5 separate regions of the Homo sapiens genome follow, and regions 2, 3, 4 and 5 are each linked to region 1. Evidence: fine-mapped expression QTL. A gene starts in region 1. Each other region holds a variant in brackets. All regions are shown on one strand. Distances are between the middles of the regions. Region 1 holds the start of GPR35 (G protein-coupled receptor 35). Region 2 overlaps CAPN10 (calpain 10). Region 3 holds the start of LOC285191 (a long non-coding RNA gene). Region 4 has its middle 16 kb from the start of CAPN10. Region 5 has its middle 25 kb from the start of GPR35.

The links. PIP is the estimated chance that this variant, and not a neighbour inherited with it, causes the effect.
Region 2: its variant is fine-mapped to the expression of GPR35 in spleen (GTEx, PIP 0.99).
Region 3: its variant is fine-mapped to the expression of GPR35 in whole blood (GTEx, PIP 0.94).
Region 4: its variant is fine-mapped to the expression of GPR35 in whole blood (TOPMed, PIP above 0.99). The same link has a PIP of 0.9 or more in T cells.
Region 5: its variant is fine-mapped to the expression of GPR35 in whole blood (INTERVAL, PIP above 0.99).

What each region holds. Positions count from the first base shown.
Region 1 is chr2:240,623,186-240,628,436 of GRCh38, reverse strand. GPR35 (G protein-coupled receptor 35) reads right to left here and starts at 2,957. Exons shown (of 2, transcript NM_005301.5): 1 at 2,869-2,957. RefSeq lists enhancers at 2,497-3,003, 3,611-3,760.
Region 2 is chr2:240,588,133-240,594,633 of GRCh38, reverse strand. It overlaps CAPN10 (calpain 10), which reads right to left. Exons shown (of 12, transcript NM_023083.4): 2 at 5,160-5,291; 3 at 3,623-3,819; 4 at 2,484-2,701; 5 at 587-728; 6 at 1-91. Among named protein-coding and RNA genes, the nearest start is that of CAPN10, 4.6 kb to the right of the region's middle. The variant C/TC (reference allele first, on the strand shown) is at 1,975.
Region 3 is chr2:240,685,105-240,691,507 of GRCh38, reverse strand. It overlaps LOC285191 (a long non-coding RNA gene), which reads right to left and starts at 5,174. Exons shown (of 3, transcript NR_149021.1): 1 at 3,687-5,174; 2 at 2,996-3,092; 3 at 2,386-2,906. The variant G/C (reference allele first, on the strand shown) is at 3,047.
Region 4 is chr2:240,599,884-240,606,384 of GRCh38, reverse strand. It overlaps a transcript of GPR35 not described here. Among named protein-coding and RNA genes, the nearest start is that of CAPN10, 16 kb to the right of the region's middle. The variant G/A (reference allele first, on the strand shown) is at 3,099.
Region 5 is chr2:240,646,814-240,653,314 of GRCh38, reverse strand. No RefSeq gene overlaps it. Among named protein-coding and RNA genes, the nearest start is that of GPR35, 25 kb to the right of the region's middle. The variant T/C (reference allele first, on the strand shown) is at 3,747.

The DNA of each region.
Region 1 (5,251 bases):
TTCAGGAGCCCTTCCCCCGAGTGCAAAGTGCTGCACGCCCAGTGGTCTCTCTCCTCCCTTCTTGAGGGTCCTGCTTGCTTTCTCTCTGATTCATGAGCAACACTTCACCCTCGTTCCAGGGACTTTTGGAGGGACCCTGAGCCAGGCCAGGCTCCGAGGACATCCCCAGAACCCACTGGAACCAATCGCTGGGATCTTCCCTTCCTGTTGGGCCTATACTCCTGTGGCAGCCCCCGCTGGGGGCCAGGAGATCCCAGAACCTGCTCAGAATCTACACCTCAGAGGCACCTGAGCTGGGCAGGCACTGTGCGTTGGGGAGGGCTCCGTGCGACTGGCCTCCTACTCTCCCCACCTGAGTACTTGAATCCACCAGAAGTCCAGGGCCAGCCTTGGGCGGTGTGCAGACCTGGAGGGGGAGGGGGTCTGCACAGCTAGAGGGCGATTCTTTTGCTGCCCCACCTTGAGTAGAGGCAGCCTGGGACCCTGCCTCGTGGGAGGTGAGGACCCGAGGGCTCGTGTGCCTAGACCCCTTCCCATTGCCCCAGCTTCCCCCATCGCTCCCCATGGCTGCCAAGGGGCTCTCAGGTCACACATACCCAGGGCTGCAACTTTCATACTAGCCTCGGTGTGGCCCAGTATTTTGTGGGGGAATGTTTAACTGCAGGCAGGCACGGTGGCTCATGCCTGTAATCCCAACACTTTGGGAGGCTGAGACAGGAGGATGACTTGAGGCCAGAAGTTTAAGAACAACCTGGGCATCACAGGGAGACCCCGTCTCTACAAAAAAAAAAAAAAAAAAAAAAAAAAAGACAGAAAATTAGCTGGGCTGGTGATGCGTGCTACTCGGGAGGCTGAGGCAGGAAGACGGCTTGAGCCCAGGAGGTTGAGGCTGAAGTGAGCTATGATCCCACCACTGCACTCCAGCCTTAGGAGACAGAGTGAAACCCCATCTCTAAGAAGAAGAAAAAAACTCTAACTACAACATTTAAATTTTCCTGTTTATAATAAAACAAACACTGAACTATTAGGGAGAAAAATGCAAATGTTGCAAGAGTTTCGAGGTGCACGTAGGCTTCGAAGAAGTGCCCTGTTCATGGGTCCTTGTCTCGCCCGTGGAGTGCCTCCCAGAAAAGTTCAGGAAATCAAGGCCCAGGCTTTAGCCCAGATGGCATGGGGCCCCTGGGAGCTAACATGGCCAGCACAGATGCCCACCTACTGCCCCAGTCCCGCACAGGAATCTGTGTCCAGGCCGTGGACCGTAGCTGGCCTCCCGCCTCAGCTCCTCAGGCCTGTCTTCCTCGACAGACACCAGCACCATCAGCCTCAGGGAGCTCCCGCTGCCGGGGACCGTGGGGATGGGGCCCTTCCACTTCCTGCCCAGGAGGCTTTGGGGATTGGAGCCAGCAGCACGCCTCTGAGGCCCCGCTTCCCCTTCTGATGACAAGGTCACCCTCGGCTTCTGCACACAAAAGCAGAAAAGTGCCCTTTGATTCTGCACTGAGTGATCCAGGAGAGAAACCTGGCCATAGACGGGCGATCCAGCCACACCAGAGCCCCTCCCCAGCCCTTCCCCCTGTCTGGACCCGGGACCCGCCCAGACCCCAGAGTGCCTGGCTGGCCTGGGATTGAGACCACAGGCCCCAACCACTGCTGAAGACGTGGGGGCACGCAGTGAGGTGCAGATCCCTGTGGCCCAGGCACCAGAGTCCCCCGTACCTGTGACCCCACTGGGCCTGGGCCCCACACAGCACACCACACCCCAGGACCCAGGATGGGGCTGTGAGTGACACGAGTTCACCAAAGTAGCTGCTCACCTCGGGGCCACAGCACGGGGTATTCTTCATTCTTGTTTTTAAATGTCACATCCCACACTCCAACAAGCTGCTACCCAGACACAGGCTCCAAGTCTTCATCAGCCTCAGCCACCCCTGAGACCCCAACAGCCTCAGCCCACCTGAGACCCCAACACAGCCTCACCTCACTGAGACTCCCCATCACAGCCTCACCCCACTCTGAGACCCCATCACAGCCTCACCCCACTCTGAGACCCCATCAGAGCCTCACCCCACTCTGAGACCCCGTCACAGCCTCACCCCACTCTGAGACCCCGTCACAGCCTCACCCCGCTCTGAGACCCCATCACAGCCTCACCCCGCTCTGAGACCCCCATCACAGCCTCACCCCACTCTGAGACCCCCATCACAGCCTCACCCCACTCTGAGACCCCGTCACAGCCTCACCCCGCTCTGAGACCCCATCACAGCCTCACCCCGCTCTGAGACCCCCATCACAGCCTCACCCCGCTCTGAGACCCCCATCACAGCCTCACCCCGCTCTGAGACCCCGTCACAGCCTCACCCCACTCTGAGACCCCCATCACAGCCTCACCCCACTCTGAGACCCCATCACAGCCTCACCCCACTCTGAGACCCCATCACAGCCTCACCCTGCTCTGAGAACCCATCACAGCCTCACCCTGCTCTGAGAACCCATCACAGCCTCACCCCACTCTGAGACCCCATCAGAGCCTCACCCCACTCTGAGACCCCCATCACAGCCTCACCCCACTCTGAGACACCCATCACAGCCTCACCCCACTCTGAGACACCCATCACAGCCTCACCCCACTCTGAGACCCCATCACAGCCTCACCCTGCTCTGAGACCCCCATCACAGCCTCACCCCGCTCTGAGACCCTGTCACAGCCTCACCTCGCTCTGAGAACCCCCGTCACAGCCTCACCCCACTCTGAGACCCCATCATAGCCTCACCCTGCTCTGAGACCCCATCACAGCCTCACCCCACTCTGAGACCCCCACCATGCCCCTGCCCCGCTGGGAGGCCCCTAGGGCAGTGGGCGGCACTGACCTGCAGGCAGCTTTGGCCTCCCGGGTGGAGTGTGTGACCCCCGCTGCCAAAGCCTGCACAGTGGCTGTCTGAGAAGGGCTGGGGGAAGTGAAGCTGGGGTGAGCCACCCCTCAGGGCTGGTCCCTGACTCTGCCCCTCCTTAAGGTGGGGGGGCGGGCGGCTGACTGACGGCAGCAGGTCAGGGGTAACAGGAGTTCCCCACTGCTCCTGCACCAGCCCCAGCTAGAGGGCGTGGGGGATTTCTGGGAGGGAAGTGGGGTGCCGGCTGCCTGTGCTGACACCTCTGAAGAGCCAGCATCCTTGCTGAGGGCACACATTTGTTCTGGAAACAGCGTGAGAGACAGACAGCAAAACCAGAGACGCTCCAGCCCCGCCCACGGAGCCTTCCTCCTCCCCAGCCCACTTCTGCCCTGTCATCTCGGAAACCTTCCCAGGGCCCAGCCCTCCCAGGGTCTGCGGTCAGCTCGCCCTCCCCAGCGCCTCATGCCCAGCCCCAAGACAGGGTGCAGCACGCACACTCATCCTGGTTCATGCAGACACGCTCCGTGGGCGCCTTCCAATACACACACACACGCTGGCACACATGCACACACACATGCACACGCCAATGCACACAGGTGAGAGGCACACGCAGGCAGGCTGGCTCCTCCCCTGCTTCCCCCCGACTTGGCCACCGGCCCCTCCTCCAAGCCCACCCCCTCAGAAGCCTACCCAGACCACCCCTATCTGGTCTAGAATATTCTCCCTGGCCCCCAACTCCTCAGCGGACATCTTCCTTCTGAGCTCATGGTGGGGGAGCCCGTAGGCCCAGGCTGCGCCCCCATGGTGCAGAGCACCCCCTTCCTGGGCCCTGTCCACCCTGAGGGCAGGAGCCTCGTCTCCTCAACGTGGGCCCCACAGCCCCTGACCACAGCCTCTCCCTCCTCAACGGCTGGGATAGGCTGGGGAGAGCTTCAGTTTCACCCCTCCCCACTTTACAGCGGTGGAAACGGACGCCCAGGGAAGGGAAGCGCTTGGCCCAGCGTCACACAGGTGGTGGCAGGTCTGAGACCAGTGCCTGGGCCTCCTGAGCCAGACCAGGGCTCTCTACCCAGAGGCACGTGAGGAAGCCCTGGCTGGGCATTGGTCCTTCTCTGCTGTCATCCCGGGCCTGGTTCCTGTCCCTTTCTTCCTGCTTCCTCCTGCTGTCCTTCCTGCCCTTCCTCCTGCTTCCCCGGCTGTCCCTCCAGGCCCAGTCCCCAGTGTGCGCCCTTGGGTTCCCTGCCCAGTCTCCATGGGCCATGATGTTCATTGGAGAGGGGCCTCATCCTCGGGCAGGAGGCTCAGATTTGGGATTTCATCCATCCCTCACTCTGGCCACAGGGTCTGGCCTCTGGGGTCAGCAGAAGGCACGGCACCTGATCAGTCCAAGCCCGGCCGCCGTCAAGCAGGGACTGGAGGTGCAGGGCACGGCATCTCCCAGGAGTGCTCCTTCCACCTCTGGCAGATCAGATGGTGCCCCAAGCAGGCCTACCCAGCCCACCAGAGCCAGGGCCCTGCAGAGCTCCCCCACCCCCCCCACCACCAGGCCAGCCATGAACTCCACCGTGCCCCCTCTGCTGGGCATCACTCCTCCCCAGCAGTGGCCTGGGGCACCCCGTCCCCACCAGGCCTGGCCTCCCTGACGTGGCCTGGCACCTGTGCTCCTCACACACTGGAAGGGAAGCCCCACTGGGCAGGGCCACATGGTCCCAGCGGATTCTTCTGGGCTGTGTGGACTTGGGGAAGAAACTGGACATTTAGAGACTCTGACTGTCTCTGGGAAGGGCCCCTTGCCACCAGGTTCCACCTGTGTACAGGAAACGCTGTCCCCAGCCCACCCCCTACCTCTCTCCATCTGCCCCTTGGCTGTCTCCGCAGGCACTTCAGGGCAGTCCCACCCAGCCTGGAGCCTGGGCCCTCGTGCTCTGCCCCCTCCCACTCAGGCAGGCCTTGCCCGGGCCCCTCCAGAGCGCTGTTTCTCTCCTAGCTCCCCGCTCACCCCCAGGGCCCCTCTCTCCCCAAAGCTGCACCCTCACGACCTGTTTGCACCCTCACGACCTGTTTGCGCCCTCACGACCTGTTTGCACCCTCACGACCTGTTTGCGCCCTCACGACCTGTTTGCGCCCTCACGATCTGTTTGCGCCCTCACGACCTGTTTGCGCCCTCACGACCTGTTTGCGCCCTCACGACCTGTTTGCGCCCTCACGACCTGTTTGCGCCCTCACGACCTGTTTGCGCCCTCATGACCTGTTTCCAGCCCTTCACCCTGTTTGATTTTATCACAGAACTTATTTTTTAAGTAACCCTTTCTGCGCACTGGGCTTGTGCTTGTGGGACTCTATCTGCTTCCTGCCCTGTCGG
Region 2 (6,501 bases), 34 kb after region 1:
CTCCTCCTCCTCCACCCAGAACTCCCCTTCCTGGAGCTGGGACAGGAGCTCAGATGCTACCGCTGCATCTACCTGGCTCCACCCTTCACCCCTGGAAGAAACCTCATCTCAGCAGAAGCCCCTCCCGAGAACTGGTAGTGTCAACTTGCCGGCAGGCTGGGGGGAAGCCTGGAGGGGACCCAGAGAGCCCTGAGTTCCTGCCAGCAACCCCGTGCCCCAGCTCTGCAGCCCCTCCCACACCCGAAGCAGCTCTGCAGCACAGGGCCTTCTGGGCAGCGGCCACCCTGGAGCCCTCTCTTTTCCCAGAGGAACTTCACGCCTCTGGATGCGTCTTCCCAGGACTGCTGCCCGAGCCCGTGATGATGTCTGCCCTATTGAAACCCCAGGCCCAATGGCCACCTTGGTCCCAGGCCTCACAAGGATTGCCTGGAGCCAAGACAAGCATGGTGTCACGAGAGCAGGGACTCAGGGGCCTTGCTGGAGACAGCCAAGTACAGTCCTGACAGCTGAAGGTGACCAGGACACAGGCCAGACTGGCACTGGGCCCCCCTCCCGACAGCAGCATGGTCCAGGCCCCAGCACTCACCCCTCTCTCCAGAGCCCCTGCCAGCACCGCCGGCCCCAGGGGTTCTGGATCCGCAGCAGCAGGATGCACTGGCCCGCCTGACCCTGGAGCTCCCGCAGGTCCGAGACAATGAAGGCATGGAACTCCCCCAGCTCCCGGGCACCTGCATGAGGAATGGCGCAGGCACAGGCAGGAAGGGCACCATGGAGTCCCAAACTGACAAGGACACACAGGCCTCTGCCTCCTCCTCTGGAGATGCTCCAGCCCACCCCACTATGGCTACACGGGAGACCCCAGATCCCCATGGACCACGAGAGCTCCTTTCTTAGCAGCTGTGACCCATCAGCTCAGGAGCATCTCCAGGAGCAAGCACACGGGGCCTGACTCGGCTGCCATCCGGGTCTGGTGCTGGGTAAGTCATCCCCTTCTCTAGGCCTCAGTCATCGTCCGTACCCATCTGTGCACGATGCCTGGCACAGCACCAGTTCTCAAACATGCTGCACAGATGCATCTGCAACTGCCAGAAATCTAGAGAGTGTTTCTCTTGGCAAAGCCTGCTAGAGGTAGGACATTCAGATAGTGCCCTGGCTAGAAGCCCACTGGAGGCATGGAGGCCCAGGGGGGCAACAGCTCCACCTGGCCAGAGACCTTGAGACAGATGGGCATAGAAAAGAAAGAGCCAAACAGAGAGGAAGGCCACATCTGTGGCGGGGCAACGGTCTAGAGAGGAGGGTCTCCTGGAAGGACTTCAGTCTCGCCCACGCCGCGGCCCCTTGCCACCTCAGCAGGCTCCAATGCACCTCCAGTCAGTGCCAGCTGCCATCTCTCTCTGCCTGGGGGCTTCCTCTAAAGCCTGAAGTGCTAGGACTTAGCGCTACCCCACCCTGGAGCACCCAAAACCAACAGCTCCCCGAGCTAATGCCCACCAGACCAGCGCCCTCACTCCCAGGTGGGAGGCTCTGAGGCCAGCGTCCTTCCTGGCACCCCAGCGGGGCTGGCGGGGAGTACACGCCCTCCAGGCTCTCTGAACCTCTCAACGTGCTCCTGAACCTCATCTCAGGGTCTGCTTATGGGGGACCCAGACCAAGGCCTATGACAACTTGTTTCAGTTTACTGTGATATTCATATTCTTTAACCCATATTTTTAAAATAATCCTAAGTATGAAAAAAATGATAAAGATGTTCATTGATACTGCTTATAATTATATAAAACCAGAGAGATCTTAATATCCAACATCAGGGGAATGATTAAGAGACTGTGGCAAACCCGCTCATGGGGCGAACATTTGACAGCGCGTGTGTGGCAGTGTGAGAAGCGGTGCGGAAGGGAACACGTAAACCGTGCGTGCTCATGGAAAACTGAGAGCGCACTCAAAAGTCACATGTGGTTCCATCTAAGTGATTTTTTT[C/TC]CTTCATTTTTTGTAGAGATGAGATCTTGCCATGTTGCCCAGGCGGGTCTCTTGAACTCCTGGGCTCCAGCGATACTCCCACCTCAGCCTCCCAAAGTTCTGGGATTACAGGTGTGAGCCACCACACCTGGCCCCTTTCATTTTTTGGAGACAAACTGTTTTTAACGAATGTTATCTATCACTAAAATAAAAAACAGGTTTTGATTTTGCCAGGTTGCCAGCTGGGCCAGGGATGGCACAGACAGTGGGCTTTGACTCGGTGCCACCTCTTCCTGCCTCGCACTAGTGGAAAGGACTGGTCAGGGGAGAGAAGGGCCACGTCCCTCTGGAAGAGGACAGTAGGGGAAGGTCACAAACTGAGGACACCACCCTTGAGAACAAGCTTACTTCTTCCCACTTAGTCCTGACAGGGCTGTGTAGCCAGTCACATAAAAAGCTACAGTGTGCCTGAGGCCTGGCAGTGGGGGGCACGCTGGCTGCAGCCCTCCCATGCTGGCCACGTGCCTCACCTGCTCTGGGGCTGAGCACGCAGCAGCTGATCAGACACTGGTCCTTCAGGTGGAGCAGCTGCCGACAAGTCCTGTGCTCCCAGCGGCCTGGCCTGTCCTGCTGGCCTCCGCTTCCTGCTACGCCCTTCAGGTTCCATCTTTCTGCCAGGCCGCCGGTCAGGTCCACCAGGGCATCCGCCACCTGCCCGGCCCACAGGTGCTCGTAGGACCCATGGACCCTAGGGGACACAATCACCATGGGAGTGAGCCTCTGGCATTGAGCATGGCCCCCTCTCTGATTCCCATGGTCTGTAGCACCCCAAATCGTCCAACCGCTGCCTCAATCCCACCTCTTTACTCCCCTCTGCCTTCTTCCTCATCCTCACCAAGTCAAGGCTTAGCCTCACCTTCAAACGCCTTACTTCACAGCAAGCGTGAGCGCCCTGCAGTCCTCTGCCCACACACAGAAACTCTCTGGCATCCGGTGTGGGCACAGGAGCAGGGCAGGAGGCGTGGAAGCTATGGATGCCCACATCCCTTGGCTCTCAAGCTCCAACCCTGCTTTTCCTAAAACAGCCCTTGGGATGGAAGGGCTCACTGGGCACTGATGTCACCAGCCAGCCTTCCCATGTTCACCAGCTTCCCTGCCTGCCTGTCAGTCCAGTTGCCTTTGGCAAGAAGACAAATGCATTCTAAGAGGGAAGGCTATTCAATTATGACTCATGGTGAGGGTCCTGGTCCCCTGAGCCAGCAAGCACCGTGATACACAAGTGTTGGTATGCTGGGGTAGCCTCATTCCTCCCCAACGACTACACAATGAGTCTGCCTGTCCCAACCACTCCACAACAAATATAAAGAAGCATCTTTCTTGCTGGGGCCGATAAAATAAGGAGGACGGCACACATGTTCTCTGTGGAGAACGACTCCACGCTGGGCTTTGGAACAAGGGAAGGGAAAGCAGGGAGTGGGCAATCCACAGGCCCAAAAGAAGAATCTCTGCACCTGGCCTGTCAGCCTGACTCACAGAATGAGCTGCCAGACCCTCAGAACTGAAGGGGGCTCTGCAGCCCAGAGTGAGCAGAGACCCTCCTGGGGCAGCCCATGGTAGTGGCAGCTCCCACTTGCCCCAGGCCAGGCCCTTCAGCCCCCAGCACACGCACTTGGCGTAGACCTTTTCCAGTAAGGGGAGCCAGAACACATCCTCCCTCTGGCAGCGGGAGAAACAGAGTCTCCCTGCAAGGCACGGCAGGCGGTCATCTGTGGTCACCTCCACCCAGCGTCCAAACTGCCAAATGCGACAGGTGAAGGAGCCCCGGTACTCCTGGTCGGCCCAGCTCGGCTGTCCCGGAGGAATGACCTGCCATGCACAGGGAGAAGCAAAAGGCGAGCGTGATATAAGCACCACCCGGCGCTACTCCAGTGTCCCGGCCGCGGTGTGGCCACAGCTGAGTGCTCCACAGGCACCGCGGTCTGCAGAGAACTCTAACGCACACCTGGATGTCGCAGAGAACTCTACGGCACACCTGGATGTCGCAGAGAACTCTACGGCACACCTGGATGTCGCAGAGAACTCTACGGCACACCTGGATGTCGCAGAGAACTCTTCGGCACACCTGGATGTCGGCGCCTGCACAGGGCTGCATCACCCACATGAAATTAACAGACCTCTCATTGCAAAACTTGAGGACCACACCGAGGGAGCCACATATCCCGGGACACACTCTGCTGCCCTCACTAAAAGCATCTGACCTGAAGCCAAAACAAATGTGACATTCAAGGGCATGAGTGACCCAGTTCTTGACCGAGCTGGCTGCAAGCAACACGTCACCACAGGAACAGCAGCCCCTCCTGCTGCTGGGAGCCTGGCGCCCCGACACTGGGCCAGCTGCTTGCACCCACAGCGTCCACCGCAGGGCTCCTTCAGGGGTAAGCATTCTGACCCAGCATCGGGGGAGTGCAGGCTGGGCACCAGGCACCTGGTGCGGTCCTGGCTCTGCCACTTTACGGCCAGAAACACAATGGCAGTGATTTTAGCACTCTCGTTTAAAAAAAAAGTCAAAGCTGGTAAGACCATGTGTCTGAAAGCCAGTGACTGTGACACGCTTACCATGGGGCCTGGGACATGAGTGAAACTCTGAATGAGGTCACACTGTTGACGCCGCTGCATTAATCAGCAACACTTAGCAACAAGCCAAGCATAAAACGGTGAACACTCCCAGGTAAGGAAAACCTGAGAAGGCCTTCTCCTCCCAGAGTATCTGTCTACCCACAGAAACAGGTTTAATAACTTTTTGCAAACTTATATTCAAAACCTGTAAGAAAACCAGCGAGCTAGCTGAGGAGAGATCTGAGGCAGAGGCTGCCAGCCAGCCCCGTCCTCCTGTGAGCTGGCACATTTGTCTCTTTATTCTAAACGTGGTGATCTGACTCCATGGAGTCCGGGGGTCAGGAGAGCACAGAGCAGGGCGAACCTCCCTGATGGAGCCTTCTGGCGAGGCCAAGGCACCCCCCCCTGCAGCAGAGGGACAGAGTGCAGTCCTCAGCCTCTGCCTTGGAACTCTCCTGCCTTCCCCCAACACAGCAGGAGATCCGGCTGCGGCACAGCTCTGCTTTCGCAAGGCCTCCTGGTACTCAGCAGGCTGGAGAAACGCAAAAAGAAACCGGCTCCAGGACAAACACAGGGAAGGGGCCCCGCACCTGGTCCAGGAGGTGCCTGCTCTTCTGCAGCGCGGCGCAGGCACACAGGAACCAGCAATCCCCCAGCAGCCCCTGCTTCACCTGCCCTTCCCGTGGGTCATCTGGAAACAGCCGGGGTGTGGCACAAATCTCCTGAGATACAGAAAGTTGTCCAGAGTTAGATCATGCCTGCTGTGGAACCCTTCAAACTAAGAACCCAAGGCTCTAGATGACAGGAGTTGGGGTGGAGCTTTTCCGATCATCAGTGTTACCCAAAAAGGGACAGGAAGGTGGTTTCCTGCAGCGGGTGTCCTTCAGCTCCTGGCTTCAAATGCCTCTGTCCAGCTTAATTCTGGGGTGCCTTCCTTCCTTACTGGAAAAATCCCAAACTCTAGCAAGCTCCTTCTCAAAACAGCTAAATGTTGGCTTCGAAAAGTTTCACTTTTTACTCATGCTGGTAAATCTCAAATGTGTCCTCCATCCTGCTGGAAATCTGTTTCTCTAGCAGGCTCCATTTCCCACACCCCCTAACTATCATATACCTTCCCCTTTCTCCCCGTCTACTCAAAACATCCACACTGCCCTTGCCCACCCCTCTGAGCTTCGACCTTGCCTCCTGCTTCTGGACCTGACCCTCTCTCCTGCCCTCAGAGCCTGGGCTCCTCTCACAACTCCTTCCCTTCCAGCTCCCCGGGCAGAATCCCACCCCCATGTTCTTTAAGACATTATCTCTCAGCACCATAGTCTCCTTCAGGCTTCTCTTCATTACAGCTCTTGAAAGAGCTGCCATGCCCACTACCTGCTTCCCATTCACTCTCCACACAGGCTCCTCTAGCTTCTGAGCCAATCATGGCCCCTAAACTGCCTCGATCAATGTCGCTGTCACCTCTATGTTATCAAACCCACTGGGCTTCTCTTGGTCCCAACTCTCTTCCCCAACTACTCAGCAGCATTCACAACAGCAGAACAGCCATCTGCTGCCCCTGAGGTGGTCCCCACTCAGCTTCTGTGAGGCCGCATGCTCCCCGGGTGTCCTCTCCCTCACTGCCTGCTGCTTCTCAAGTCTATCTGTCAGGGCACCTGCCTGACCCCAAGAAATGTTAGGGTTCCTCAAGGCTCAGCCCCAAGGCCCCCTTCTTCTTTACTGATACTCCCCCGAGACACTCTCCCAGGCTGTGGACTGTAAACCATCTAATATGCTCCGCCTCCCAGAAGAATGCCTCTAGCCTATCCCTGCTCCGTATCCACCTGCCTCCAGGACAGATCCACCTGCCTCCAGGACAGCTCCACCTGAAGACGTGAGAGCAAAGCCCAACTCTAGGTCACCCCCAGGCTCTGTCCCAGGACCACCATCCACCCACCT
Region 3 (6,403 bases), 62 kb before region 1:
CCTCCAGGTCCCTGCCTGAACAAGGGCCCCCATTTCCGCCTCCCTGCATGGATGCTGTGTCCCCATCTCAGTGAGGGCCCCAGGCTTATTGCACCTGCACTGTGTCCCCACTGGGGTGAGACCCCCACTGAACCTGCACTGTGTGTCCGCCTGGGAGGCCCCTCATGGCCCCTGCACCTGTTCTTTGACCCAGCCTAGGTGAAGCTCCCTCCTGCCTGCACCTGTAGATGTCTTCCCTTGAGTGAGTGCCCTCTGCTCCCTGCACCTGGCTGTGTCCCCAGCTAGGCCAGGCCCCCTGCACGTGGGCTGTGTCCCTGCCTATGGGAAGGTCCTCTCATTCTTGGCTCCCTGCACCTCCACTGTGTCCCCACCTCAGCAGGGACCCCCAAGCTTGTTGACCTGCCTGGGGTCTGGTCTGGGTGAGACCCTCCTCCACCTGCTCTGTGTCCCCTCTGGTCAAGAGTTGGCAGCAGCCCTTGCCCCAGCCCCACATTCCCTGCCCTGTACTGCCCTCACCTGCCCTCAGGAGAACTCAGGACCACGCCTCACATCAACGTCCCTCCCACCTTCCCGCCCCGAAAGCGCTTTCCAGAGATGAAAACCGAAAGTGCCATCGCCATTCACTTGAATTTCCTGCAGAGGGGCCAGCTACCCACAGCTGCGTGGAGAAGGCGCTGAGCCTGGGCGTCTGCAGTGGGAGATAGCTGGGCTGGGACCATCCAGAGCTCCGGACCCCGAGGGGATGGGACATGAGCCCTGTGGGCCCTGCGATGGGCCGTCTGTCACCCTGCAGCATGGATCCTGTCCAGTGAGTCTGCACCCAAGCACTGGGACACCAGCCATGGCCATATGGTACAGCATGTGGGACTTTCTGGATGTCCCGCCCGCAGCCCTTTCCTTCTCCCCCAGGACTCACTCCAGCACCCGAGGCCCTTCCCCCAACCTGGCCCAAAGCTCCCCTTTCTCTGAGACTTAAATTTCCTTTTGTTTTTGGAAACCCAGTTGGGTCCCACCTGGCGTCCCCCTGGCACAGCTGGGGAGACTGAGACCAGGAGGGAATGGACCTGCCTGAGGGCACATAGGAGGCAGCAGCTCGCAAAACAAGGGGCGATTTTATTTCAGCTTTGAACTTTCCAGGTCTGGGGTTCAGAATTTCCTCCAGTTAGGGAAGGTGTCTGGTCGCCTCCAAGGAGGGGAGGCCCCAGGCTCTTCGACTCCCACAGGAAGGCCGCCTGTCCCCCTCCCCAACCCATCCACTGACCTCTTCCCAGGAGGCAGAGAAACCCTGGTTCCAGTAGGGCTGTGGCTGCCTTCGGCTGCCTGTTCCCTGTGCAAGTGCCCTGCCCTCTCAGAGGAGCAGAGGAACCTTCTGGAACCTGTAGAGGCCTGGCATCTGCACAGGGAAAAGCCAGGCTTTCCCTCGTGGGATCCTGTGGAGAATGAGCTCAGACGGATTCCTCATATTCTAATCCGACACCACTGGAGACCTTGACTCCTCCTTCCAGAGCGGGAACCCCCTTGTCCAGCGTCGCGGATACCGGGCCCCACAGTCTCCCTGCATCTGCATTGACCCTCCACGGAGCTCACAGCAGGGAGGGTCTGCGTGGTCCACCTCTACCCCACGCACAGGCAAACCTGAGAAGGAACGTTTAATCACCATTCACAGCCCTTGCTTCTTTCTAGAGAAATAAAACAAACTTACACCAGAATATGAAAACAACGTGAAACACACAAAAGTTAAGTGTGAGCCCGTGCACTGTGACAGGTGTCAGCAGCGTGAGTCTCGCCAGCGTCAGGAGCTGGAACGTCTTCATCATCCCCGAGTCCTCTGGTCCTCCCTGCCCTTCCGCAGCGGGAGGGTCCACTCTTGTGGGTTCCCAGTCCTCCCTGAACTTCCCCAGAGGGAGGGTCCACTCTTGTGGGTTCCTGGTCCTCCCTGAACTTCCCCAGCAGGAGGGTCCACTCTCGTGGGTTCCCGGTCCTCCCCGCCCTTCCCCAGCGGGAGGGTCCACTCTTGTGGGTTATGTGATTCTAGCTTCCCGCTTTCTGTCCGGAGCCTGCAGAGGAATGGGACCACGAGCTACACGTGGGTTGGACCTGCCTGTTTTGAGAGAGGGCCCTGTCCCTGGGGTTCATGTCCCTTGAACATGGTTGAGAATTTTGTTCCTTTTCATTGCTGACTTGAAGCCATGTCATGAAGAGCCACAGCTTGGCCGTTTTTCTGATGATGCCCATGTGGGTGGATTTTAGTTCTTACTACTATGAATAAAGCTGCTGTTAGCATTTTGGTCTATTCTTTCTGTAAACGCAGACTTTTATGTCTTTTGGGTAAATTCCTAAAATGCCCCGGGTGAGCTATGTCCACTGAACAAATCCCACATCTATAAATTTGGAAAGAAGACTTTATTTCCTATAAAGGGGTAGGGCCTTCAGGGTGGCCGTCCTGACACCCTGGGCACCTCAGCCTCTGGCAGAGCCCAGGCCGGGCACCTGGAAGGAGGGGGTTGGGGCAGGAGCTTCATGCTGAGCAGGTCGGCTAAGCATTCCCAGCCTTGCCTGGGCCTGGTCCTCTGGGGCGATGGGGAAGAATGGTGTTCCAGGACGGGGTGGGGGGCACCTGCCCAAGGCCTTCTGCAGGTGACCTGCTGGGCCTGGCCTTGAAGGAACCCCAAGTACACTCACCTGTACCCCTCACAGCCACCTCAAAATGGGCCCGCGATGTCTCAGCTCAGGACTTCCTGGGAGGCGACCTCACCCAAGGCTCCCCAAGGTTCCAGTCCTCAATGTCAGGGAGGGGCAGAAGAGACCAGCGGCTTCTCATCCAGGCCCCACAGTGCTGTGCTGAGCCCCATATGCCCCCCGCTCAGGCGGGTCCAGCACTCCCTGTGGCTCTCGGGGGAGACGAGCTGAAATGGAGTGGGGTCCTTGCTCAGCTCACAGCACCCTCTCCTCAGCCTCACCCCATTGGAAGGTGGCCCCTGAACCCTCTGCCTACCTGTCCTGTGCACTCCTCTGGGTTAGCTCTGAGAAGGCTGGGAAGGCCCTC[G/C]ACCCACCTTGAGCCAGGTGTGGGAACAGAGTGGTCAGTCTGCGCCCTGGAACAAAGATCAAAGCCAGGGTGAGGCTGGTCCAGAGACGTCCCCAGGCCCTTCCAGGGTCAGCTTCCTTCACCCACAGGCTCCTGGTTCCCCTGGAGGGACCAAGCAAAGCCAACATAGCAGGGAGCCTGCACTCTGCCAAGCCTAGGGGTGCCCTGGCTTCTCCCCTTGCCTGTGTGTGTGGGTGTCTGAGGATCCCAGGGTGGAGATGGGGAGGGACGCGGTGTGGGAGGCCCAGTATTGGGCAGCACCGTTGGAGGGGACTGAGCTCGTCGGGGGGTGACCAGCCCTCAAGGCTTTGGCTGGCTGAGGGGTGAAGGGCCTGTGCCTTGTGCTCCAAGCCTTTCCCGCCTGGACAAAGAGACCCCTGGGCCCGCAACAGCTTCCACAGGAGCCTGGCCCTGCCCCTCCTCGGGTGGCCTGTGGCCACAGGGACCCTTCTCCCACCCTTTTCCCAGGCTCCCTGTGTCCTCACAGCCAGCCCCCACATCTGCAGAGCCCTTCTCTGAAATGCCAGACAGGAAGACACACCACTGAACCTGGAAGCCCCAGCTGGCAGAAAGGGGGTTGGGCACCTCAGGCAGGCCTCACCTGCATGCCCACGCCATGCTGCCCACGGCAGGGCCAGGCCACTCCAGGCCCCTCTGTCCTGCAGGCGAAAAGCCAGGAGTGGAGCTGCACCAGGGTTGGGTCCTGAGCAAGGTGAGGCCCCAGCCCCATCCCCACTCCCCCCAGGGCAGGCCTAGGGTGCGGTCCTGAGGGCGCCTGGGGCTGGCCTGCCCGTGTGCACCCCCCACCCACAGAAAGGGCTGGAAAGAAGTCCCACCTGTAGACGGAGGCCAGAGGAGGGGACAGCCTTGTCCTTGCTCCCCACCCTGCCTGTCTGCACGGGAGCCCACGGTGGGGCCCAGGAGGCACCTCCCTCAGGCCGGCTGTCCCTCCCCACCTGGGGCCCATCAGCTGGGGGTACTGCCAGGTGCTGGAACAGGGCCTGGGGCCTGCTACAACCAAACCTCTAGGCCCCCATATGTGAGTCAGGGTTCTCCAGAGAAACAGAGCTGCTGGGCGATACGTTTAGGAGGAGATTTATTACAGGAATCGGCTCCTTGATCACGGAGGCTGAGAAGTCCCACAAACCGCTGTCCCTAAGCCAGTGAACCCGAACAGCGGGTGGCGTCATTCAGTCCAAGCCCAAACCGCTGGTGTCAGTCCCAGAGCGCAAGGCCTGGGACCCAGAAACTCCTGTGTCTGCGGGCAGGAGGAGATGGACGCCCCAGCCCAAGAAGACAGAGGAACCTCCGGAGTCTGGGTCTGCAATGGGCTGGGTGCTACCCACCCTCATAGCTGAGGCCAGATCTGCCTTCCTCAGCTCACTGACAAATTACCATCTCTTGTGTGACCTGAGAGTGCACAAACACTTCCTGGCAGGGAGGAAAAAGCAGTGACAAGCACATTTAAAAATAATCAATTTGGCTTTATCCGAAGGAAAATGCTCTAGTTATCAAAAGACACTACAAAGAAAATGACCAGGAAGTCTGGGGAGATACTGCAAAACAAATCCCACACAAAAATCTTGTATCCAGAATATAGAAAGAATGATCATAAATCAATAAAAAGATACACAGCCCCACTTTAAAAATGAACAGAAGAGATTGGAATGGACAGACAGTTCATGACTGATGGTTTCACACTTTTTGTCATGAGGGAAATGCAAGTTTAAGCCACGAACAGATAGAACCACACAATCAGCAGAAGAGGTAGTTGTGAAATCTTGACACCACCGACTTTTAAAGACACCAAAACTGTCACACACGACTGGTGAGAGTTAAGATACTACAGCCACTTCGGGAAAGGTTTGGATAGTCCCTTATAACGTTTTCACTCACCTGCCATGTGAGAACTAAAAATGAAATCCTGAGCTCCCGCACCAACAAGCTGAATGGACCCTTCTTGGCCAAGGGGATTCCAGAGAAATCTGAAAAACATGACAAAAATCCCGCCATGACAGAGTGGGAGGTGGGACCCGCCGCGTGACAGCCCCTCCGTCTGTGGTTGGGACACCACACTCACCAGCATGAAGGTGAACATAAAGAGGAGACTGACAAAACAGGTTCCTTGTGGTGATAAGACAGCAAATGATCAACAAGACCTGAGGCCCTGCCTGGCAGGGGTGGAGTCACGCACAAGACACTGAAAAGCAGAAACCAGGGGCTGCCGGCCAGGAGGGTTCTTTTTCTCTAGCAGCTAAACCAGCGCTGGCCACTAGGAAAGCCACACTCACTCAGGTGCAGCTCACCCCCTCCAGATGCTGACACACAGCCCCACTCTTCTGTGCCACCAGCCCTAAGTTTGATTGGCCAAGAGGCTGATTTCTGTAATTCTGACTGGGGACCACCCAGCAGGGACTGGTTCTGGCTGGTTTTCAGGGGCCGTGCAACGAGTGCCTTGGTGTTGCTGCTTCACCTTTCCAGGCAAGGGCCTCACAGGAACACATTTAGATATCACGTGTCCACCCCCAAGGAAACTTGAGACGCATGTCACATGCATGTTTGTTCAGTATGCATGAGTGAGGACCCCTTCCTGAATGTTCACGGCTCCTCCAGCAACCCATGGAGTGTGTGTCCTTAGCCGACCTGTTCAGCATGAAGCTCCTGCCCCAACCCCCTCCTTCCAGGTGCCCGGCCTGGGCTCTGCCAGAGGCTGAGGTGCCCAGGGTGTCAGGACGGCCACCCTGAAGGCCCTACCCCTTTATAGGAAATAAAGTCTTCTTTCCAAATTTATAGATGTGGGATTTGTTCAGTGGACATAGCTCACCCGGGGCATTTTAGGAATTTACCCAAAAGACATAAAAGTCTGCGTTTACAGAAAGAATAGACCAAAATGCTAACAGCAGCTTTATTCATAGTAGTAAGAACTAAAATCCACCCACATGGGCATCATCAGAAAAACGGCCAAGCTGTGGCTCTTCATGACATGGCTTCAAGTCAGCAATGAAAAGGAACAAAACTCTCAACCATGTTCAAGGGATATGAACCCTCAGGGACAGGGCCCTCTCTCAAAACAGGCAGGTCCAACCCACGTGTAGCTCGTGGTCCCATTCCTCTGCAGGCTCCGGACAGAAAGCGGGAAGCTAGAATCACATAACCCACAAGAGTGGACCCTCCCGCTGGGGAAGGGCGGGGAGGACCGGGAACCCACGAGAGTGGACCCTCCTGCTGGGGAAGTTCAGGGAGGACCAGGAACCCACAAGAGTGGACCCTCCCTCTGGGGAAGTTCAGGGAGGACTGGGAACCCACAAGAGTGGACCC
Region 4 (6,501 bases), 23 kb after region 1:
GCAACACAGAGACAGGCACACAATGCCACAGTGCCCGATGTCACGTCCATCCAGGCCCCAGCCCAAGCCTGGCTGCTCCTCCCCTGGCAGATTCATAAAAGGACTGGGTGTCCCAGGCAGCTAAGATGGGCCCAGCCTGAGCCTTGACCTGGGTAAGGGACACTGCATATGCCCGACTAAACCTACTAAACCTGGTGCCATGTTCCCTGGGATCCCTGAGTGAGTGTTGTGGTCCCAGCCCAGATCTGAGGCAGTGCTGTCTATGTGGACACTGGCTATACCTGCTGGGGACTAGAGAGGAATGGCCGGGTTTGGGGGGCAGCACTAACCAGATGGCCTGCAAGCTATGGCCAGAGCCCTGCAGCCATGGTCTGAGCTCCCCAGGATGCTACAGAGAGCCGAGAGCTCCGGAGACTCCCAGGTCAGCCTGCCTGCCAAAGCCTTTCCTCCAAAGCAGAAAAGACCCTTCCCCTGATGAAGCAGCCATGTGCAGGGCTTCACGTTGGGATCAAAAGGCCCCAAATTATCCCCAGGAATAAAATGATTCTTCCACTAGTTTCAAAAGGCAGCAAAACTAGCTTAAGTCTGGCAAAAATTAGGTGAAAACAAACAAACAAAAAAAGCAAAACCAAATGAAGACTCCAAGGGACAGCGAGCAAGGCGCAACCATGAAGAAAGCACGAGCCCAAAGTCCAGGTCTGAACACCTTGGCCCCAGCCTGGCCGGCCGCATCCTGTGTCCTGCCCGGGCAGCCCTGCCCCGACCAGCCCTCTCCCTGACTACCGCTCTCAGGACACAGGATCTCGACACTCACCCCAGAAGCTCTGCTGCCCCCAAGGCTGGCCCAAGCCTGGAGGACTGTGAAAGAGAAGACGGCAGTATCAGGACCGGGTGGGACACGGCTCCCACCAAGGAGTCACCAACTGCTGTGCCTGGAGCTGGAAGTGACTAAAGGAAGGAACCCAGGCAGGTGGTGTGGGACAAAGTCCACAGGAAAGGCCAGGAAGGAGGTGCTCTCATGGGACACACCCAGTCCTGCCCGTCCGGATCTGCCAGGGCCACCCTTTGTCCCTTCCCACCATGGTGGGGAGACGGTCTTCAGCCCACATGCCCCACTCTGCAGGCCCACAGTACCGCCAGGGACCCCACAGCCCTGGACCCCATGGAAAGGCCAGGCCCTGCCTTCAAGCATTCCGGAGAGTTCTGGGTGCCTTGCCAGGGCTGGCGTTGGGGAGACAGGATTTTATTTTTCAGGGTGGCTCTCATTTGCTAGGACACAGGCCACTGGGGACCCAGCATTTGTGTAAGAGATGGGCCCTTCTATAGATGACACATTTATGTCCCCGAAATTCACATACTGAAGTCCTCATCCCCAAGGTGAGGAATGAAAAGGTGGGGACCTCTGGTAGGTGATGAGGTCATGAAGGCAGAGGCGTCACGAATGGGATGAGTGCCCACATAAAACGGGCCCCAGGGAGTTCCTTTGCCCTTCCACCACATCAGGACACAGAGAGAAGGTGCTGTCTCTGGACCAGGAAGCAGGTCCTCACCAGGCACCAGGTCTTCCAGTGCCTCAATCTTGGACTTGCAGCCTCCAGAACAAAGAGCAACGCATTTCCACTGTTTACGAGCTGCCCAGGCTATGGTGCTTTGTTACAGCAGCCCAAAGGAACTCAAAGAGGGGCCCCACCAAGGAACTCAGGCAGGTGCAATGCCAGAAGAGCCAGTAAATCTTACAGGGGTGAGGAAACTCTTTGGCTTTCTCTATTTTCACGTAAACCAGCAGCCTTGCGGCAAAACGAGTGGTCAATAGGAGACTGAGTGACTGCTTGGCAGACAGCCAAGAGAGGCCGGAGAGGGCAGGAAGTGCTGGACAGTGGCTCCCAGCTCCAGAGCACCCCTAGAGGCCCCTGGGTGACACAGGCAGGGGAGCCTCACGGAGATCCAGGAGCAGGCATGCTGGAGGTGGTGCTGATTACAAGCTTGCTGATGGTCAGGCAGCGCTATCAGCTCTGAGGCTGAGAGGGGACTGAGGGTTTCTAGATGGCCTTCACCCTCAAGCAGAGCTGTGCGAGGAGCCGATCCAGGCTGGCTGCAGCCGCTGCAGAGTCCACCCCAGCAGACGCTGAGAGAGAAATGTCACTGGGTGGCCTGTGGCCACTGGCCCAGAAAGCAGGAAAAGTCCCACAGTGCCTCACCCCTGCTTGCCTTCCTTCCCTCCTGACACCCCAGGTGTCTCCCCCAAGCCGCCAGGCCAAGGGCGCTTCTCCCCGCAGGTGTTCCCAGGGTTATGGTCTACACAGCCACTGCTGAGAGGGTGCAGCCAGCAAGGAGTAAATACGCTGGCCAGCAGGTGTGAGCCGGGGCGGTAGCCCCAAGGGAAGGCCCATGGCTGGGCTGTGGGCAGCGTTCTTGGGGGCAGCCTTGTCCAGGGATGCCATGGGGTAGTCTGCCTGGGGAGGCTGAGCCAGGCAGGGCACAAAGACCAGGCGTTTCAGCCAGGTGGGGGCACCCCGGCCACCGACACTCCAGGCTTCTCCCTCACCAACCCCACCTCTTCCACCTTCCCTCCGAAATACCTTGCACCCAAATTCTATGTCTGCCTCTGCTTCTGGAGAATCCAACCCCCATTGGAGAAGAGAGTCACTAATTTGGGATTTGGAACTGGGTCACTCACGGCCCACGGGCAATGAGGACCCATCACTGGTCAGGGGAGATAGCTGGCGCCTGGCACAAGGTGGTCGTCCTGTCCAGTCCAGTTGTGAAACTGGTTCCAGTGTCCAGTGGGAAAGTTGGGGAAGGGGGTCTGCTGGGGGCCCCAGCTGCTGTTTGATGAATGAACAGACACGAGGGCCTCCAAGGAGGAAGCAAATAAGGCGCAGGTGGCTGAGGCCTCACTGAGGTGCCCTGGCTGGAGTTTGGAGAAGTTGGGCGGGGCGCAGCACTCCCAGCTCCTGATCAACACCTAGCCAAGGCCAAGGCCCCATCTGGAGAAACCAGGACCGTGGGCAGGGAGGAGGCAGTGCGTGGTGCCTGAAGGTTCCACTCTCCAGCCTCTTAGGAAGCTTCTGAGCCTGCACAGACGCGGCCCACCCCTC[G/A]CTCCACCCCCGTCAGGCCCTGGCCCCCCTTGGGTGCTAGGGCTCTGACCGAGTGAAGTGTCAGCAACATCCAGTGACCAGGGAGTGGGCTGCGGGCCCGGCCAGCTCGGGGCACAGGAGGGGGCTGCAGGCCCAGCCAGCTGGGGACGGGAGGCGGGAGCACTGGTAGGACTGGGTGCTGAGGCGCCTGATAGGGAAGCTGGAGACCTAACAGCAGTGTCCCGAGACACAGGTTTGACACCCTGGCAAGGCCCCTGGAGGTGGAGCAAACCTGGAGGTTCCTAGCGGCACAGGCAACACTTCCACTTTTGCTGGGCAGGGTAGAGATGCCACAACTGCTGTGGCTGGTGGAGGGTAGGCGTAGGCGTGTGTGGTGTGAGCTGCCAAGCACTGGTTCCCTGGGAAGACCAAGGTCACACCGCTCACCTGTGCCATGCTGGTTAATAGGGAGTGGCAGCTGTGCCGCAGGAGGCTGGCAGGAGTGGCGGCGGTGCCCCAGGAGCCTGGCGGGAGTGGCGGCGGTGCCCCAGGAGCCTGGAGGGAGTGGGCGGCGGTGCCCCAGGAGCCTGGCGGGAGTGGCCGGCGGTGCCCCAGGAGCCTGGCGGGAGTGGTGGCGGTGCCCCAGGAGCCTGGCGGGAGTGGCAGCGGTGCCACAGGAAGCTGGTGGCAGGAACCACCATCACTGGGTTTGGCTCGCCGGGGGCGGAGGGCATTAGACCTCTAAACAGCAGAGGCCAGGAGACAATCATGAACACGGCTGAAGGGCGCCAAGGGGCCTGCCTGCAGGGCTTACGGAATGGCAGCAGAGCAAGGCAGGGCTGCCAGCGAGGGCAGCGCTCAGGTGGAGCCGGCAGAGGGGTCCAGGAGGGCTGAGGGTGGTCACTCCGATAGAGCCCCAGTTGGGCCCACACTGCCCGAGTCGGTTTTCAGCCCAGGTATCTGCTGACTGAAGAGGTGGCCAGGCCTGCAAGATGAAGGACACTCCCCACATCAGCAAGTGTGCATGACAAGGACCTCCCCGGGGACTATGTGCACCAGGAAGAGAATATCCAGGCATCTGGGAGCCACTGAGCACACAGGCCCCAAGCTGATGCTGGTCCCCAAGAGTCACCAGGGCTCCATGACAGTGGGACACATCACAGGCAGTTAATAATGGAGTCCTGCCCAGGACCAGCTCACATGAGCCCACAGGGCCTACAGACCCACCCGGGGCCATGTCCCGGTCTCTGAGCCTGTGACTGGGATTGACACCTGGGGAGCGACCGATATCTCTGCTGCATCCTTGGGGTAGAGATGGCCGTGGGAAGGCCAAGAGGGACACTGGAAGGCCAAGACTGTCCCCTCCTGCCCGGGTCCCAGAGCAGCCGTGGCATGCGGAGAGAGGGTGGTGGCCCTGCTCTCTCCATTTGGTTCAGTGTGGCCCCGTGGGATGGGATTCCTGGAGGGCCACGTGGCGAGTGCACACACAGCCGAGGGGCAGCCCAGTGCAGCAGGTCCTGGAGGTCCAGGTACCCAGGGTTGGCCATCAACTGGACGAATACGCCACGGAAGATCAGAAGCTGCTCACATTTATATGAAATTTGTATGGAATGGACAAAGGCATTTGCTGTTTCTCCTGGGGCCTCTGCCGGAATACAGGACAGAGACCCCAGCTGGCCGGACACCCTGAAGAGCACCGCACTGATCCATGACCTTGGCAACAGGATGCTGATGGTGTCAGAGCAGGAGGCAGCCAGGGACAAACAACACCAGGCCGGGGCCTTCTGCACCAGAAATGTTTAGGTTGGCTGGGGGTTAGAGCCCTGCCAGACATCCCCTCCAACTGCATCTGGAACCTCCCATCAGAAGGAAGCACAAGGCCTCAGGGCTCTCCGCAGGCTTCGGAGGGAGCGTTTTCCACACCCAGGAACATGGTTCCAGCTGGTAGACCAAATGGCCAAAGCAGCCAGGTCGAGTGGAGCCAATCTACACTGGGGCGATGATGGGTGCCAACCATGGCCTCTAAAGTCACGGAACCCTGCGCTTTCGAGGCCTCCTCTCAGGCAGTAGCCTGGGACGCGGGAAGCAGGTCCTGGCTGTGGCCTTTGGGCAGAGCTGCCCAGCAGGAGGGTGTGGCCGCCACCTTCAGGGCCTGCCTCGGGGACAGTGGCTCCTGAGGGCCTGGGGGAAGGGATGCTCAACATAAGGGCCTGGCCAGCCCAGGTGGGGCCCTGCAGGCAGGGTTTGCTCCAGAACTCTTCACGGGGTCCCCACCAGTCTATCCTGACATGGACACAGTCCCTGCAACTGTCTTCCCTTCATAGGCACTGTGCCTGAGAAATACCTTGACCCCAACTGTCCCACCTCAACCTGCACCATCAGGCGCCCTGCACAGGACCTGTCCGCCCACAAACCCAGGGATCTAGGGCAGCTCCGACCCAGCTCAAGCCTCTGGCTTGGGCACTGCCCTGCGGGGTATTTCTTTGGTGAGCCGCCCCTCACTGTTCGCCCTGAGTTGCTGTACCCCAATAGGCGGCACCACTGGCTTCATCCGAAGTCAGCACAGAAGCCAGTGGATGAGGGAGATCTGTGGCAGGCTCTGCACGCAGGGAGATGGAGCCCCATCCTGCTGCTCAAGAATCCGTGTCTGAAGATGCCGAGAACCCAGCTGCCACAGCCACTGCTGCTGGAGGGCCATTGAACCAGCAAGCAGAGGGGCTCACGGGGCAGGCTCCAGGGCCAGGGCAGCTTCCTGTGGGTGAGTCAGGAGGGTGGCTTGGCGTGGCCAGGGCGTGGAGAGGGGGACAGCGGCACAGGTCCCAGTGGGAACAGACACCAGGACTCCAGAGATGGTCGTGATCCGGCAGCAAGGCCCAAATCAGGCTCACTGGGTGCTATGGTTTGAATTTGTGTTCCTGCCCAAATCTCATGTCGAATTATAATCCCCAGTGTTGGAGGAGCCTGGTGGGAGATGATTGGATCATGGGAGCGGATATCCCCCTTGCTGTTTTGGTGATAGTGAGTTCTCCTAAGATCTGGTCATTTAAAAGTGCACAGCACCTCCCCTTCGCTCTCTTCCTCCTTCTCCAGACACCTGCAGACTGCCTGCTTTCCCTCCGCCATGATTCTAAGTTTCCTGAGGCCTCCCCAGCCATGCTTCCTGTACAGTCTTCGGAACTGAGGCAATCAAACCTCTTTTCTTTATAAATTACCAGTCTCAGAGTTGTTTACAGCAATGTGAAAAAGGACCAATACACGGGGTCTCCCCAGGCACAAAGGGACTCAGGAAGCGAATGGAATTTAAAAGGGATTAGAGCTGGGGTTGGCGGTCATGCCTGCAATCTTAGTGCTTTGGGAGACCAAGGCAGGAGGATCACTGAGGCCAGCCTAGGCAACCACATACTAAGACCCCTAAGCATTCAAA
Region 5 (6,501 bases), 24 kb before region 1:
TGATGGAGTTTTGCTCTTGTCACCCAGGCTGGTGTGCAATGGCGTGATCTCAGCTCACTGCAACCTCCGCCTCCTGGATTCAAGTGATACTTGTGCCTCAGCCTCCCGAGTAGCTGGGATTACAGGCTCCCACCGCCACACCTGGATAATTTTTGTATTTTTAGTAGAGACGGAGTTTCACCATGTTGGTCGGGCGGGTCACGAACTCCTGATCTGGGATTAGAGGCGTGAGCCTCCGCGCCCAGGCTTATTATTATTATTTTAATTAGAGATGAGGTCTTGCTATGTAACCAGGCTGGTCTCAAACTCCTGGCCTCAAGCGGTCCTCCCACCTCAGCCTCCCAAAGTGCTGGGATTACAGGCATGAGCCACTGAGCCCGGCCATGTTCTTTCCATTTCTTAATAACTGTTGAAGGATGTTCACCTGCTGGGATGGGCTCCTTCACTCTCCCACCTGACTTTCCTCATTCTTTTGCAAAGCAGTCTGAATTTCCCCACAATCTGTTGTTTCCACACAACTTTTTCCTTTGGCCCTGAGGCCAGCGACTATAGCTTGGACCTCCCAGAACCCAGGATTGGTGCAATGTCAGGATTCAGCCCAACATCTTCCTTACCTTTCCCTCTAACCTTCCCATCGGTCATGGCCCCAAGGCAACCACCTCGGCCTCACTACCCATTGGCTCAGGCTCAGAACCTCTCTCTTGCTTTCATTTCAGCTTTTACAGAAACAATAACTCACAGTGGACCCATATGAAGTGCCACTAGTGATGCTGGAAGTGCCCAAGAAGCAGAGAAAAGTCATGACATTACAAGAAAAAAGTTGAATTGTTGGATACGTACTGAGGTCTGCAGGTGCGGTTGTGCCATTTCAGAGAGACAATTCATCTTGTAAACAGATGACAGAAAACTTAATGATATTGATAAATACAGTACAGTACTGTAAATGTATTTTCCCCTCTTTATGATTTTCTTAATAATAGTTTATTTTCTCTAGCTTACTTTATTGGAAGAATACAATTTATAATACCTATAACATACCAAATAAGTGTTAATTATTTATGTTATCAGTAAGGCTTCGGGTCAACAGCGGGCTGTTAGTAGTTAATAGCCTACTGTTGTGTCTCCGTGGTAATAGCCTATCATTGTAATTGTCAGAAATGAGAGTGGTCTTGAGGACTGTTTTCTCTGCCTTTACAGTTTGATAAAATTCCTGCAGCTGAAAGTGGAATTCACTAGAATGTCCCTGACTCGCTAAAAAATGTGGTATGGAAAAAGGAGCAATGAGAGGGCAGGGGATGAAGGATCTCTCTTTTACTTTCACCCTCTCTTAACTTTTGTTTTAGCTTTTAGGGAACACAATAACCAAGAGATTGCATATGTAGCTTGGTTTTTGTTACTTTGTATTTCCTTATTCATCCGGCCAGCCAGTTCCTGGGGATCTGGATCCATCATTTCCAAATTCTGTTGGAAACTTTTACCTCCTGCAACTGACCACAGCAGGGCTGCAGCTCCATACCACACGTGACCCATGGCCATCCAGAAATCAGAGGTCCTTCATCCCCTGCCCTCTCATTGATCCTTTTCCCAAACCACACGTTTCAGTGAGTCAGGGTCATTCTAGTGAATTTCACTTCCAATTCCAACTCCAACTCCAAGAGCTTTAGCCAAATGTGACGACAGAGAAAACAGTCCTCAAGAGCACTCTCACTTCTGACACCAATTACAAGTTCCAGGAACCCCACACCACCCTCAGGTTCTGTAATTTGATAGAAAGACTCATAAAACTCACCGAAAGCTGTTATAGGTGTGGTTACAGTTTATCACAGAAGAAGGACACAGTTTCAAGTCAGCCAAGGAAGCTGCACACAGGGCAGAATCCAGGAGAACAAGAGGCTTCTGTTGTCCTCTCCCTGTGTGGTCAGGCCAGTTTTGCTCTCCTGGCATGTACGTGTGGTGACACACCTGCAGCACGGCCAGCTGGGGAGGCTCACTTGATGCTCTCTGCCCAGAGTTTTTACTGGGGCTCCAATATGTAGGCATGGTTGATTGATTGGTTGACTGACTGATTGCTCACATAGTTGACCTTAGACTCCAGCCCTCAGGAGGTTGAGATGTGTGACCAAAAGCCCCTACCCTAAATCACATTGTCGGTCTTTCTGGTGGTTAGCCCCCACCTAAATACTATCAAGTGTGGCCCGCCACCACCCTAAATCACCTTGTTAGACTATCTGGCATTATCCAAGGCAAACAAAGGTAAACAAAGACACTCCTATCAGTCATGACATTCTAAGGGCTTAGACATGACCTTCCAGAAGCCAAGGGAAGGGCTAGACATCTTTTTGGATAAGGTTAAATTCTTTACCGCACAACGTGTGAGATAAAAATTATGGAAGAAGGAGTTTAGGATTCCCAGAGCATCCTCATGTCCCTGATGCTGCATGGGGTGCATCTGCCAGAGGCCCCTCGCGGTGATGGAAGCCTGAGGAGCAGGAGCACCTGGCTGTGGCAGGTGAGGTCTGGGTTCCAGGGCCCAGGGTGGACCACACATCCCAGGCCCAGGAGCCAGAGCCTCACGTGGGCCCACCCCAGAGGCCAGGCACCAGAACTCAGGCTGTGGATCCTGTGTTCCCGGAACCACCTACAGTTTGGCTGCCTTGATCCAACCCTCCCACAGGAAAGGGTGCTGCTGACCCAGCTCCATCCTCTCCTCATCCCCTTGCCACATATTAGAGGGTCCTAAGGGTTCTGGGGTGCAGCTCCTAGGAAGAGGACTCTGTCCTTTTCCAGATTCCAGAAAGGGAGGAAGACACTGCTAGGAGTCTTCCCCTGTGAGGGTGCCCTGGCCCAGAATCTCCTCCACTGAAGAGCAGAGAAATGTGCCTACACCAAGAGCTGTCCACACAGCCTGACAGCAGAAGTGTCTCGCCTCCGAGTGACCCCACTTTCCGGTGAGCCCACTTCCAAAGACCCAGAACCACCGCAAGACGCTTTGCTCTCTACTAAAGCGATGCTGATTTTTTTCTCTGTTAGTTTTGTGGCTATTGAGTGATCATTCAGCGACTTAAGTGGAAATCTAACAGATTATAATTCTTCTATAATGTCCTGCAGGTTCCTCAAACATGACTCCCAGTGATTAAGGGCTTTCATGCCCTCCCACTAGTGGGAAGTGTAATTACATTATCTTGTTGTTGTTAATTAGTGTAATAAAGTTATCCAGAAACACAGCAAGAACTTTGTCTTCTAAAATAATTTCCATGTTTTTCTCTTTTATTTTTTTTTTTGTTATTATGAAATGGTTACACAATATCTCAAATGGAGACCTAATGTAATTTTTAGGGTAGTGTTTTATAAATGTACATTATGTAAATGTGAATCTTAGTAAACCATTTCCACATTATTTGATTTCCGAATACTGCAAGAAGCATATTTGTGTCATTGTTATTTAATAAGTCTCTTCATCCAGGAACCAGAGGTCCTTCATCCCCTGCCCTCTCATTGATCTTTTTCCCAAATCGCAAGTTTCAGTGAGTCAGAAACCCATTTTCCCTCTCTTGTGAGCTAATATTGGACCTCCTGTTGGAGCTAATATGTATCTTCCTCACATGGAGGAGAAGCAGCTGGGGGCCTCTTTCTCCTCCAGTTAATCTTCCTGGGATGTTCTGCTCGGAGGCCATCCTAATCTTAACACAACAGGGGCCTGGGGGCCCTAAGCAGAGTACGGGGGTCAAACCCGCCCCTCTTCAGCC[T/C]GTCCTGCCCTCTCCTTTGGTTCCACTGTGGTGGTGAGTTGATTACACAATTGGTCCTATTGAAGCTGGACGGAATTCTAGTTCTTGGGGTAGTGATTTCTACACGAAGCTCATTTGGAAGTGAATTTCCTGGGGGCACTGTTTCCTTTCCTTCTGTTCTGACAAGGGAAGGACATTATTTGGGTGTGGCCGCCTTTTAAGACCCTGCACCAGGGAAGTTCGGTGAGGGTTTTATAGGAGCCGTCTCACATCTGGGGAGATGCAGAAACACTGTTCTCTTCTATGGACCCAGAGATGAATATACAGTAGTTAGAAGACCAGTTATGTTCAACTCACTAAAACTTGATTTTTAGGAATGTTTGGGAAATACCGTTTCCACAAAACATCCTTCCCTCGTCCATCCATCGCGGGTGCTGGGGATTGCCTGTGGGAGACCTGGCCTCGGTGCTGCCTCCCTCCCTCCTTCAGTCCTGAATCCAGCTCTGGAGGAGAAGCAGCTGGGGCCGGGGAGGGGAGGTGACACCGTGCCCCGAAGGGTTAAAAAGACCGGTGACTGACAGCGGGGATTCCTGAGCTCACATGACGGCAGGTAAGAACAGCAGCAGCGTGCTGGAAATTCCCTCCTTGTGAGAATAAAACTGCCTGAGATCCTGGGGACCCAAAGGGCCGGCTGGAGTGGGCAGCAGCTTGCTGACATCACGGCCCAAATTTCCACCTCACGTTCATACTCACTGCCCCTGAATCAGCACATGTGACCCTGCAGAGGCACGAAGACACAGCTGCACATGCCCAGGGGACATTTCAGACCTCCCCTTTCCCTCCGGCAATCACCCGCTAATCCCAGAACCCACCCCAGACCTTTCCTAATGACGGCACTGCCTTAAGGCCAGGAAGGGGAGATGGATGTGAGCTGCATCCTGTCTCCTTGTTGCTGACCCACAGCAAAGCTTGTCTTTTCTTAAACCTGGTGCCACAGTACCGGCTTCTGAGTACCTCTGGAAGCCAGCCCCATTCACTGTCTTCCCCAGGCAAACCAGCTGCCCAGATTTGTTTCCCCAAAGTGCCTCTCCTCTCCCAGGCCGCTCACCCTATCATCTCTCAGGACCAGGGTGTCCCAGAGCATGCTTTAGGGGGTGCCTAGAGTTGGGACAGGCCACTGGACATCCAGCAGGGACCCTGAACTCAGTTGCGACCCCAAGGGCGTGGGGCCCGTTCTCCTCCAGTGAATCTCCCTGGGATGTTCTGCTGGGAGGCCCCCCTAACCTTAACACAACAGGTGCCCAGGGGCCCTGAGCAGAGTTCACAGGTCACACCTGCCCCTCTTCAGCCTGTCCTGCCCCAGGCAAAACAACAGTGACAAAGACTTTCCAGGATCCCTGACAACCCTCCCTGTTATGTGGCCTTCACCTCCCGCTTCCTATGTCTGGTCTTGGGTGTGGAAAGGACCTCAGAGGTTAAACTGTCACCCCCACCCCCTCTCTGGCCACCTCTGCCCCAAGCCACTGCCTGGCCACACCCGTGACAGCTGGAGCTGACAATTCTGCTTCCTTCAGGGCAGAGTGGGCACTGGCCTGGAGACTCCAGCGTGTGCAGGGGCACAGGCAGCCACGGCTCTCAAAGCTGCGTCAGTGGGGCTGCTGTGTGACTTGGACTCAGTCGCCAATGTCCACTTCCCTCCAGTCTTCAAGCGCTGTCAGAGCTTGTCACTAGCAGAGACGAAAGTCACATCACCTGTGGGGGCACAGGCCTGCTTCACAAGGACCCCAGATGGTCCTACAGGGATGCTTGCCTCTGAGGGGGCGGACACAGGGCTTTCACCGCCAGTAATTCAGAGCCCCTCTCTGCCTTCCAGTTCATCCCAACCCCCCTATTGCCCCATTCCAGGCCGACTTCCCCCCGAGATGCCAGAGCGCGTGTCCTGTTTGTTCCCGGCCCGGAGCTTCCTGCCCCTGCTGCGTTGCTGGCCTTGCCCAGGACCGTACGCGGAGCCTGCTGCCTGACGCTCAGCAGCTAATCCTTTCCACAACTCGAACGGCACTTAAATTGCCCTCCTATTTTCACCCCAGCCCTTAGAAAAGCTGGGCTTGGTCCTGTACGAACAAATTCCGCTACTGCGAAGCTTCCAGCTCCATCAACGAAGCCCAGCTCATGCAGAGGGGGTGTGACAGGAGGCCCCGCGCCGCCACCGGCAGCTGCTCTGCTCAGGGTACCAGCGGGCGGGGCATTGAGTGCGCCCAGGGCAGGGGCCCGAGCCTCCGCTCAGAGGACACTCGCTCGGGACCAGGGGCCGCTGGCTCCGAGAGGAACCACGCACCCCAAAGCCCCCCGTGCTCCTCATGGGCCACCTCTTCTGGGGGTGCTGCTTCTGCCCTGGAAGCCCAGCCACTCTCCCTCCTCCACTCCCTGGTCCGAGGTGTCAGGGACACGCGCAGGGCTCCGGCTGCCTCTTCCTGGAGCCAAGGGGGAGCCGGGGCTTTGGCCAAAGATTCTTCCCGCGCTTCCATGAACACTACAGCTCATGCAGGGCAGCCGGGAAGAGCCTCCAAGGCAGCCCCTCCTGGGTTGGGACACACAGAGCCGGGGTCTCAAACTACAACCAGATGGGCCACTGCCTATTTCTGTAAACAGGGTCACGGGAGCTCAGCCTGGCCTTTGTCCGTGTCATCCTCCGCTGTCTGCGGCTGCCTTCACCCTCCGCCGACAGCGTGGTCTCCTCGCTGAGGGGGCTGGAGACGTTCACCGACCGGCCCTTTAC